Homo sapiens: one gene and its partners. The protein of the gene in region 1 interacts with the protein of each later gene in a pairwise test. Each region holds a gene or a part of one and is shown in the gene's direction. Other genes may lie near its edges.

What was found. The genes of interacting proteins can lie anywhere in the genome.
Region 2: the proteins of NR1D2 (region 1) and TTC3 interact in a two-hybrid assay, tested with the Homo sapiens proteins (one large-scale study listed by BioGRID and IntAct).
Region 3: the proteins of NR1D2 (region 1) and NBPF19 interact in a two-hybrid assay, tested with the Homo sapiens proteins (one large-scale study listed by BioGRID).

What each region holds. Positions count from the first base shown.
Region 1 is NC_000003.12:23,965,786-23,969,285, forward strand, and holds part of NR1D2 (nuclear receptor subfamily 1 group D member 2), read left to right. Parts: intron 1-2,027; coding exon 2,028-2,238; intron 2,239-3,500. UniProt on the Homo sapiens protein: Transcriptional repressor which coordinates circadian rhythm and metabolic pathways in a heme-dependent manner.
Region 2 is NC_000021.9:37,163,754-37,167,253, forward strand, and holds part of TTC3 (E3 ubiquitin-protein ligase TTC3), read left to right. Parts: intron 1-297; coding exon 298-462; intron 463-1,796; coding exon 1,797-2,862; intron 2,863-3,500. UniProt on the Homo sapiens protein: E3 ubiquitin-protein ligase which catalyzes the formation of 'Lys-48'-polyubiquitin chains. Mediates the ubiquitination and subsequent degradation of phosphorylated Akt (AKT1, AKT2 and AKT3) in the nucleus.
Region 3 is NC_000001.11:149,516,545-149,520,044, forward strand, and holds part of NBPF19 (NBPF family member NBPF19), read left to right. Parts: intron 1-19; coding exon 20-192; intron 193-911; coding exon 912-963; intron 964-1,565; coding exon 1,566-1,738; intron 1,739-2,447; coding exon 2,448-2,499; intron 2,500-3,143; coding exon 3,144-3,316; intron 3,317-3,500.

The sequences.
Region 1 (3,500 bases):
TTCTGCAGTGTTAGACACCTCCTGAAAGCCTAGCCTAGCATTTACTGTATTCGATACAGAATAAGAAGGGCAAATAGAATGTGATTTCGTTTTTCGAGAGACTGTAGAATATTTTGGGGATATATCAGACATTTCTTATGTGCCACCTTAGCTCTTCCTGGTTTCACCTTGCTTCAGGATCCTTGGCTACTTTTCTGTCCCGCTTCTCTTGCAACACTGTATCCTGCTTGGGCTTGGGGTAGTCTCTACTGTATAACTTAACAGATGTGCCTCTCCTGGTCCTTAGTTAGGTGTCTTTCACCTTCTGTCTGCCCCAGGGCATCCCTTTTGCTGCCAAGGTGTGAGATGCCTTGGGACCTAATTAAGGACAACTCTGAGATTGGGGTGGTGAGAGGAAGTTGATGTTTGGTGGGCCAAATCTTTGAACCTTTTATGGATGGAAGAAGTGAGCCAGGGCTATATTTTCACTTCTCCCTGGATTTATTATAACGGAGGGAGTGAGATAACTAAGTAATATAATTGTTAACCGATTTAACTTGGATGTCAATTATAACATGGTGCTTAGAACACTTACTGTGATAGCTTTCTTTGTGGATAGTCTCTTTGGGTGTTGGTTTCTTGAAGCAGTTCAGTTAGACTTCATCTGCTTCCTTTGCCTTGGCTGCATTTGATGTGTTGATGTTTCGAAGTGTTGCTGCATTGGAATTTTGCTCTTTTTACTTAAGGCATAGAGGCCATGTGTTATACTTGGCAGCCTAAAGAGATTCTTTAATGCCTTTGGCCAGGGCCCAGTTTTAAATTTACTGGCACTATTTCTTGCTCTAATTTTATATTGCATTTCAGAATCTTTGTTAATAGAGTGGCAGAGTATCTTTGCCATGAGTGGCTAGAATTTCTTTTGATGTTCTTCTTGGAGTATTTATTGCTTTGGTAGAGAATCTGTCTTAAGAAAGTGGTTTTGGGACCGGGTGCAGTGGCTCATGCTTGTAATCCCAGCACTTTGGGAGGCCGAGGCAGGCCGATCACTTGAGTCCAGGAGTTCGAGACCAGCCTAGGCAACATGGTGAAACCCTGTCTCTACAAAAAATACAAAAATTAGCTGGGTGTGGTGGTATGTATTTGTATTCTCAGCTATTCAGGAGGCTGAGGTGGAAAGGATCACTTGAGCCGGGGAGGTTCAGGTTGCAGTGAGCTGTGATTGCATCTCCGGCCTGGGCAACAGAGCAAGACCCTGTCTCAATAAATAAATAAATAAATAGGCCGGGCGCTGTGGCTCATGCCTGTAATTCTAGCACTTTGGGAAGCCGAGATGGGTGGATCACCTAAGGTCACGAGTTTGAGACCAGCCTGGTCAACATGGTGAAACCCCATCTCTACTAAAAATAAAATCAGCTGGGCGTGGTGGCGTGTGCCTGTAATCCCAGCTAGTTGGGAGGCTGAGGCAGGAGAATCGCTTGAACCCAGGAGGCAGAGGTTGCAGTGAGCTGAGATCGTGCCACTGCACTCCAGCCTGGGTGACAAGAAGAAAACTCCATCTCAAAAAATAAAATCTGGCATGGTGGCTCACACCTGTAATCCCAGCACTTTGGGAGGCTGAAGCGGGTGGATCACCTGAGGTCAGGAGTTTGAGACCAGCCTTGCTAACATGGTGAAACCCTGCTTCTACTAAAAATAGCAAAAATTAGTTGGGCGTGGTGGCGCACACCTGTAATCCCAGCTACTTGGGAGGCCGAGGCAGGAGAAATGCTTGAACCCGGGAGGCGGAGGTTGCAGTGAGCCAAGATCATGCCATTGCACTCCAGCTCGGGCCACAAGAACGAAACTCCATGTCAAAAATAGAATAGAATAGAATATAGAATATAGAATAGAATAGAATAGAGTGGTTTTGAGTAAAAGTATACCCTGTTTTTCTTTTATAACTTTCTTTTATATGTGGGATGATTCATAACTGACTTGATTGAATACTAAGTTATTTTTTTATTATTGCTGTTAGACTTCTCCAAATACATTTCTTTTTCTTTTTCCAGGTTTTAATGGTACGGTTCGCATCATTATTTGATGCAAAGGAACGTACTGTCACCTTTTTAAGTGGAAAGAAATATAGTGTGGATGATTTACACTCAATGGGAGCAGGGGATCTGCTAAACTCTATGTTTGAATTTAGTGAGAAGCTAAATGCCCTCCAACTTAGTGATGAAGAGATGAGTTTGTTTACAGCTGTTGTCCTGGTATCTGCAGGTAAGCAAGCTGGTTCAAAATTGTGCCACACCTAGCATATAGTGACCAACTGGGGAGAAGATGGCAGTTAACAGGGTTCCAGAAAGTTATATAGAGGGAATAAGGCCTTAAGGAAGATGCTAAATTGTATGACCCTGTTATTTTTGTGTAACTAATTTTTTCGTTATAACAATATATGTCAAAGTACTATAGGAATAAAGTAATACTTACATCTAGGCCTTGTGTTTACCACTGTTAGTCTTTAGCTTTTTGTTCATAATTTTTCTATGAGTCTAAATCTTTATTTCATGAATTTGTTAGAACATTATGTATCTCCAGGTAGGTAGTTGTAATATGAATTTCAGTTTCCATTCAAATACAATGTGGGTTACTTGAAAACATTAAAAGTATCAAGAGGTATTAGTGTGGTTTGTTGCAGAGAAATGTGAATTAGTTGTAGGCTTTAGTCCAGTTCTGCCATTGAATTATGTGGGTAACTTGGGTAAGTAACTTTACTCTTTTGGGTCTTGGATTCCTTCCTCATCCTGTCAAAGGAAGGGGTTGTACCATGTGAGCCTAGTGTGGTGTCTGGCATAGAAGAGCTACTCAGTCACTGTTTGAATGAGTGAGCAAGATTTTTGAGTTTCTAATGTTTATTTATATGAGTCATTTATGATGTTTCCCAATGCCCCTGCCATCTTGCATTAATATTACAGTTATTTCTGACAGTACCCATTAAGGCAGAGATTGTTACTCCCAATAACAAATGGAAATTGAGGTACTTTCCTGGGTATGTCTAAGTAAGTGCCAGCTATTTTTAGGCATCATTTTATTGTATAACATTTGGGAATTTTTTAGTATTTGGTTATGACTTTGTTTCCCATTTGCTTCCTACTGTGTAAAGGGCACTGTGCTAGGCATTGTGAGAGTTATAAGTTACGGCCTCTGATTATGTAGCTAAACCATAAATTAGTAGCTCTTGAAAGAGAACAAGTTCTTGGCCAGGCGCCAGGGGTGCACGCCTGTAATCCCAGCACTTTGGGAGGCTGAGGTGGGTGGATCACCTGAGGTCAGGAATTTGAGACCAGCCTGGCCAACATGGTGAAACCCCCTTCTCTACTAAAAATACAAAAATTAGCCGGGCATGGTGGCACGTGCCTGTAGTCCCAGCTACTCAGGAGGCTGAAGCAGGAGAATCGCTTGAACCTGGGAGGCAGAGGTGGCCGTGAGCCGAGATCACACCAGCTTGCATTCCAGCTTGGGTGACAGAGCGAGACTCCGTG
Region 2 (3,500 bases), on another chromosome or scaffold:
AGTTATAATTAATGCAACTTTTTTTAAAAATATGGAGTTTTAAGAATTTTGCTCTTTGGAGCAAGACTAAATAATTGAAAGTGCTTACTTAGATTGTCAGATATGATATTTCTCGCCTATAACTGTGGAAGGGTAACTTTTCTACACTAAGTTCCCTGGTGCTATTTTTTTGCAACATAGAGCTGAGTAATATATTGCCATTATTGTGTTTATTTCAATTAGACATTCTTCTGGTTAAATAATAAACCAAAGGTCTATCATCCACAAAATTGGGTGTTTTTTGTTGTTATTTACCAGCAATCGAAATTCAGATTCTGCAGGCCCATTTGCAGTGCCTGACCATCTTCGGCAAGATGTAGAAGAATTCGAAGCTCTCTATGACCAACACAGTAACGAATATGTTGTCCGCAATAAGAAGCTATGGGACATGAACCCAAAACAAAAATGTTCAACTCTATATGAGTAAGTGGGTTGAAATTTTTACAACCATTATTTTATACTAAGGCTGCCAATTAAAGATCAGAAGTTGTTTAATTTGTGCCTGTTTTTAGAGATTTTGCCACATTTTACACAAAGTTAATTTAGGATTTTTTTTTTTTTTTTGAGACAGAGTCTTGCTGTGTCACACAGGCTGGAGTGCAGTGGTGCAATCTCTGCTCACTACAACCTCTGCCTCCCAGGTTCAGGTGATTGTCATGCGTCAGCCTCCCGAGTAGCTGGGATTACAGGCTTGCACCACCATGCCTGGCTAATTTTTGTATTTTTAGTAGAGAAGGGTTTCACCATGTTGGCCAGGCAGGTCTCCAACTCCTGGCCTCAAGTGATCTGCCTGCCTCAGCCTTCCAAAATGGTGAGATTACAGGCATGAGCCACCTCGCCCCGCCCTGAGGATTTTTAATTATTAAATTTAGAGTCCTAATGATTATTGATTTTGTCAGTTTGAGCTACTAAGTCGATACTGAGTGGGGTGGATAAAACAAGTAAAAAATTCAGGAAAATCTCAGATAGCTTACCATTTTGAGCTTTGTGTTATTAGATAGTGCATGAGGCCTTCCTTTTAAGAAAATAAATCAAGGGCTGAGGTCTGTAATAGAGTATTAATTTAAAAGCCAACTCTTCTCCTGGAAGTCCTGTCAGTAGCATATCCACCATATGGCCCTTTCTTCTGTTTTCCTGTATTGCATCATTCCTATTTAGTTCTGTGCTCTTAGATCCTTCTTCATGGTTTTTCTTTAGAGTTGAAATGCTGAGCAAATCATATTTCCAGAGAACTCTTGGGTGACAGTGTGGAAACAACTGTAAAATTATACTATTATTTCTTAAAGTATGCTAGAATTTGCTTCAGGCATCCAAAAGTAAAGCTAAAGTATGTAGTTTTCAGTATTTACTGTACGCAAATTCAAATAGGATTTGTTTTTGAGATTTGATTTTCTCTTTTTATTTAAAATTCTTATTGGCATTATTATCTTTCCTGAATAAATTTTTTGTTGTTGTTTTTAGAATAAATTATGTAATTACATAGTTGAAAGTTATGAAATAACTTTTTGATTTCCTTTTGCTTTCCCCTGCTCCCAGAAAAGTTTTAAATGATCATTTTCTAGGAGGTAGACAAAATTTTCTTTATAGTATCATTGATTGCAGTTAACCTTATGTTTGTTATATTTGTTGTTGAGGAAAGGTTGAGATCAGTGAAAAGTGAAACAGTGTTTTCCTTTGGGAGAATAAAAGTTTTTTTCAAATAGACATATTCAAGTACTTCCTTATAGTAACTCATGTAAATGTAAATTTTTTCCAAGTTACTTCTCTCAGTTTTTGGAGGAACATGGTCCCTTGGACATGAGTAACAAGATGTTCTCTGCAGAATATGAGTTTTTCCCAGAAGAAACTCGACAGATACTAGAAAAAGCAGGAGGTTTAAAACCTTTTCTCTTGGGATGCCCTCGTTTTGTTGTGATTGACAACTGTATTGCACTGAAGAAGGTTGCATCACGGCTCAAGAAAAAAAGGAAGAAGAAAAACATTAAAACAAAAGTAGAAGAAATTTCAAAAGCAGGGGAGTATGTACGAGTTAAACTACAACTGAATCCAGCTGCTAGGGAATTTAAACCAGATGTAAAGTCTAAACCAGTGTCAGATTCATCTTCAGCACCAGCTTTTGAAAATGTGAAACCCAAACCTGTGTCTGCAAATTCTCCCAAGCCAGCTTGTGAAGATGTGAAGGCCAAACCAGTATCCGACAATTCTTCTAGACAAGTTTCTGAGGATGGGCAACCCAAAGGGGTCTCTTCTAATTCTCCTAAACCAGGCTCTGAGGATGCAAATTACAAGCGAGTCTCCTGTAATTCCCCCAAACCGGTTCTTGAGGATGTGAAACCAACTTATTGGGCTCAATCCCATTTGGTCACAGGATACTGTACGTATCTTCCTTTCCAGAGATTTGATATCACCCAGACACCGCCAGCATACATAAACGTGTTACCAGGTTTGCCCCAGTACACCAGCATATATACACCCTTGGCCAGCCTTTCTCCTGAATATCAGCTACCAAGATCAGTACCAGTGGTGCCGTCTTTTGTAGCCAATGACAGAGCAGATAAAAATGCTGCTGCCTATTTTGAGGGTCATCATTTGAATGCTGAGAATGTTGCTGGTCACCAGATTGCCTCTGAAACACAGATCCTTGAGGGCTCTTTGGGAATATCTGTAAAGTCACACTGCAGCACAGGTGATGCTCATACAGTCCTGAGTGAGTCTAACAGAAATGATGAGCACTGTGGAAATTCTAACAACAAATGTGAAGTAATTCCAGAAAGCACCAGTGCAGTAACAAACATTCCACACGTGCAGATGGTTGCCATACAGGTAAGAGTTAAATAGAAAAGTCTTCTTAATACTGAAGTTAAATTTTCCTTTTCATTTTTCATTGCCGTTATATTTGCAAGAATCCTTAAAGTTGATTGACTTTATAATGATTACTGAAGCTTTTGCCTGAAAATACTTTTAAAATATGAACTCTTTTGTGAGGCATGACAGGTAATCTTCTCAGAAAGAAGCTTGGGTCCAATAAACAATACCCATCTTTGCTACTGAAATTCTACACAGATTGAGAAATAAGACAGCAGGTGGAGCCAAAACGTCATCCTAAGAATTAATAAAGGTGCTGGAGGAGAAGGTGGCTGTTTGTAGGAAAGTTCAAGTGCTAGCTGGAAGTGTAGCCTGCATCACAGTGCCTTACCTGCCAGTTACAGGAGGGCCCACCTGGAGGCCTTCCAGCGTGGGGTGCCTGCCCCATAGGACTTAGCGCATGAAGGAGGAAGGGAAAATGTGCTGGCAGCTCCTCAGAAAGAGAAGGAAAAAGGAAGACTCTGACCTACACAGGCCCAGCTTCTCCTGTCAAACCAGGGGAGGAATGAGAATGTTAAAAAGAGACAGCCAGGTAGAAACAAGAGGGATGTGTATGAGTTCTTTCCTAACAAGGAAGAGATGAAATCAAGATTCTC
Region 3 (3,500 bases), on another chromosome or scaffold:
CTTTTTCCCACTTTTCCAGGCTCAGCAGGGAGCTGCTGGATGAGAAAGGGCCTGAAGTCTTGCAGGACTCACTGGATAGATGTTATTCAACTCCTTCAGGTTGTCTTGAACTGACTGACTCATGCCAGCCCTACAGAAGTGCCTTTTACATATTGGAGCAACAGTGTGTTGGCTTGGCTGTTGACATGGATGGTGAGTACCTTTCTATGAAGGTGATAAGGATCCACTGAGTCTTCTGGTTAGGGTCATATTCCTACTGCAAGTGGCCCTTACTGAGCTGAGAGATGTCATTGCCACAGGGAGGACCTATAGGCACATGTAGGTTGAATGAAACTCTAGTTCCACTTGGCAGCCCAGACAAGGGATGGGTCAGTGAGCAAGGCTCTCTCCCTAGTCTCAGGCCATGCCTGTGGCGCCCTAATCCTACTCTCATGACATTGGACCTGGGCAGATGTGACAAATTCACACAACTCTGATTTTGTCTCAATTTTGTAGATCTTGTAGATTTCATCCTTCACTCTAATTTCAGCGTCTAAAATCCTCGCTACCATGAACAATCTGAGTATTTGATGAGACAGGGCTGAATAGTGCAGTTTTTCTCCTAGCAACCATTTGGGGGTATTTGCTTTAAATCGATTGGAAAAATATGGCATAACCATTTGCACAAACTTGGGACAAATGATATTGGGATAACGATCTACCAGAATAGGGAATTTTACCCACAGTTTCTGGGACAAAAACCAAGGAATCTCTATGGTGATCAGCCTTCAGGCCTCCTGAAGAATATCTCTCACAGTGTCCTATTCTCATGCTGAGGAGCCTGAAGTTCCTGTGTGAGGATTAGACAGTGGATTGTTATGTGTGTAGGAGAACCAGCTTCATATGTCTGTCCATGTCTGAACTTATTGCAGAAATTGAAAAGTACCAAGAAGTGGAAGAAGACCAAGACCCATCATGCCCCAGGTAACTTTGAGCAATTATGGATGCTTAATTCTGTGTTGACACCTGGAGATGCCAGGTCCAGGGAAAACAAGAGTGTGTTCAATTTCATGTTTTCAACGAAGGTTGAATTACTCCTACTGACATGGCTGTTGGTTTTCATTGCAGTAGATGTTTAGGTTTCCATTTCTTCCTCCCCTTAACATTTACTAACTTACTATAGGTTGACCATACCTCAAAGGCTGTATGGCAACTGCATGGAATCTTGAGCAAGTTTATGGAAAATTATTGAGCCCACTCTTTTCATGATCACTGTTCGCTGTGTGTCCCGAGGGCACTAACTCAGAGTGTCCTTTGACCCCTTCATCAGTGTGTCACCCGGCCAACTCGCTGAGCTCACTTTCTCCTCTCTCTCTCTCTCTCTCTCCCTCTCCCTGTCTTTCTCTTTCATTCTTTTCTACCTGGCCCTGGTCTATCCCAACATAAAGGCAATAATTCATTACCTCATTAATGGATCTGTCCTTTTTCTTTTTAAACAGTTCCTTATGTTAGCCATGAAATCTAGCTGGGGCTGTGTGGTTTCTGATTCCCCCTGGCTTATTCTTTACTTTTTCCTACTTTTCCAGGCTCAGCAGGGAGCTGCTGGATGAGAAAGAGCCTGAAGTCTTGCAGGACTCACTGGATAGATGTTATTCGACTCCTTCAGGTTATCTTGAACTGCCTGACTTAGGCCAGCCCTACAGCAGTGCTGTTTACTCATTGGAGGAACAGTACCTTGGCTTGGCTCTTGACGTGGACAGTGAGTACCTTACTATGAAGGTGATAAGCCTCCACCTGGTCTTCCAGATAGGGGTGATATTCCTGTTCCAAGTGGCCCTTACTGACCCGAGAGATGTCATTGCCGCAGGCAGGACCTATGGGCGCATATAGGTTGTAATGAAACTGTAGTCTCAGTTGGAAGCCTAGACATGAAATGGGTCAGTGAGCAAGGCTCTATTCCTAGTCTCCAGCCATGCCTGTGGCAACCTGAGCCCGCTCTCAGCACATTGGACCCAGGCAGATGTAAAAAATTCACAGAACTATGATTTGGACTCAAGGGTTTGTGGATTTCCTCCTTCATTCTAATTTCAGTGTCTAAAATTCTTGCATCCATGAACGAGCTGGGCATTTGATGAGACAGGGCTGAATACTGCAGTTTTCCTCCTAGAAATCATCTGGGGCATTTTCTTTGAACTGATGGGAACAATAAGGCATAACTGTTTGCACAAACTTGGGATAAGTGATTTTGGGATAACGATCTACCAGAATGGGGATATTTCACCCTTGGTTCTGAGATGCAAACCAAAGAATATCATGACCAGCTTTCAGGCCTCCTGAAGTATATCTCTCACATTGTCCTGTTCTCATGCTGAGGAGCCTGAGATCCCTGTGTGGGGATTAGACAGTGGACTGTTATGGGTGTAGGTGAATTGGCTTATTTTGTCTGTCCCTGTCTGAATGTATTGCAGGAATTAAAAAGGACCAAGAAGAGGAAGAAGACCAAGGCCCACCATGCCCCAGGTAACTGAGCAATTGTGAACAGCTACTTCTGTGTTGACATCTGGAGACTCCTGGTTCAGGGAAAACAGAGCGGGCTGACATTATCGATTACATCTTTTCAAGCAAGCCTGAATTATTCCTACTAACATTGCTGTTGGTTTTCATTGCAGTAGATATTTAGGTTTCCATTTCTTCCTCCCCTTATCATTTACTAACCTACTGTAGGTGGACCAGACTTCAAAAACTGTATTCTCATGGCGACTGCATGGAAACTTGAGCACATTTTATGGAAAATTATTGAGCACAGTCTTTTCATGATCACTGTATGCTGTGTGTCCTGAGGGCACTAACTCAGAGTGTCCTGTTACTCCCTCATCAGTGTGTCACCTGGACAATTCACTGAGCTCGTTCTCTCTCTCTCTCTGTGTGTGTGTGTGTGTGTGTGTGTGTGTGTGTGTGTGTGTGTGTGTGTCTGTCTTTCTCTTTCATTCTTTTCCATTTGGCCCTGTTCTGTCCCAACATGAAGGCAATAATTTGTTACCTCATTAATGGATCTATCCTTTTAGTTTCTTAACCACTTCCCTATGCTACCCATGAAACCTAGTTGGGGCTCTGTTGTGTGTGATTTCCCCTGGCTTATTCTTTACTTTTTCCTCCTTTTCCAGGCTCAGCAGGGAGCTGCTGGAGGTAGTAGAGCCTGAAGTCTTGCAGGACTCACTGGATAGATGTTATTCAACTCCTTCCAGTTGTCTTGAACAGCCTGACTCCTGCCAGCCCTATGGAAGTTCCTTTTATGCATTGGAGGAAAAACATGTTGGCTTTTCTCTTGACGTGGGAGGTGAGTACCTTTCTATGAAGGTGATAAGCATCCACTGAGTCTTCCATATAAAGATCATATTCCTGCTCCAAGTGGCCATTACTGAGCTGAGAGATGTCGTTGCCGCAGTGAGGACCTATAGGCACATGTAGGTTGAATGAAACTCTAGTTCTACCTGGAAGCCCAGACAAGGGATGGGTCAGTG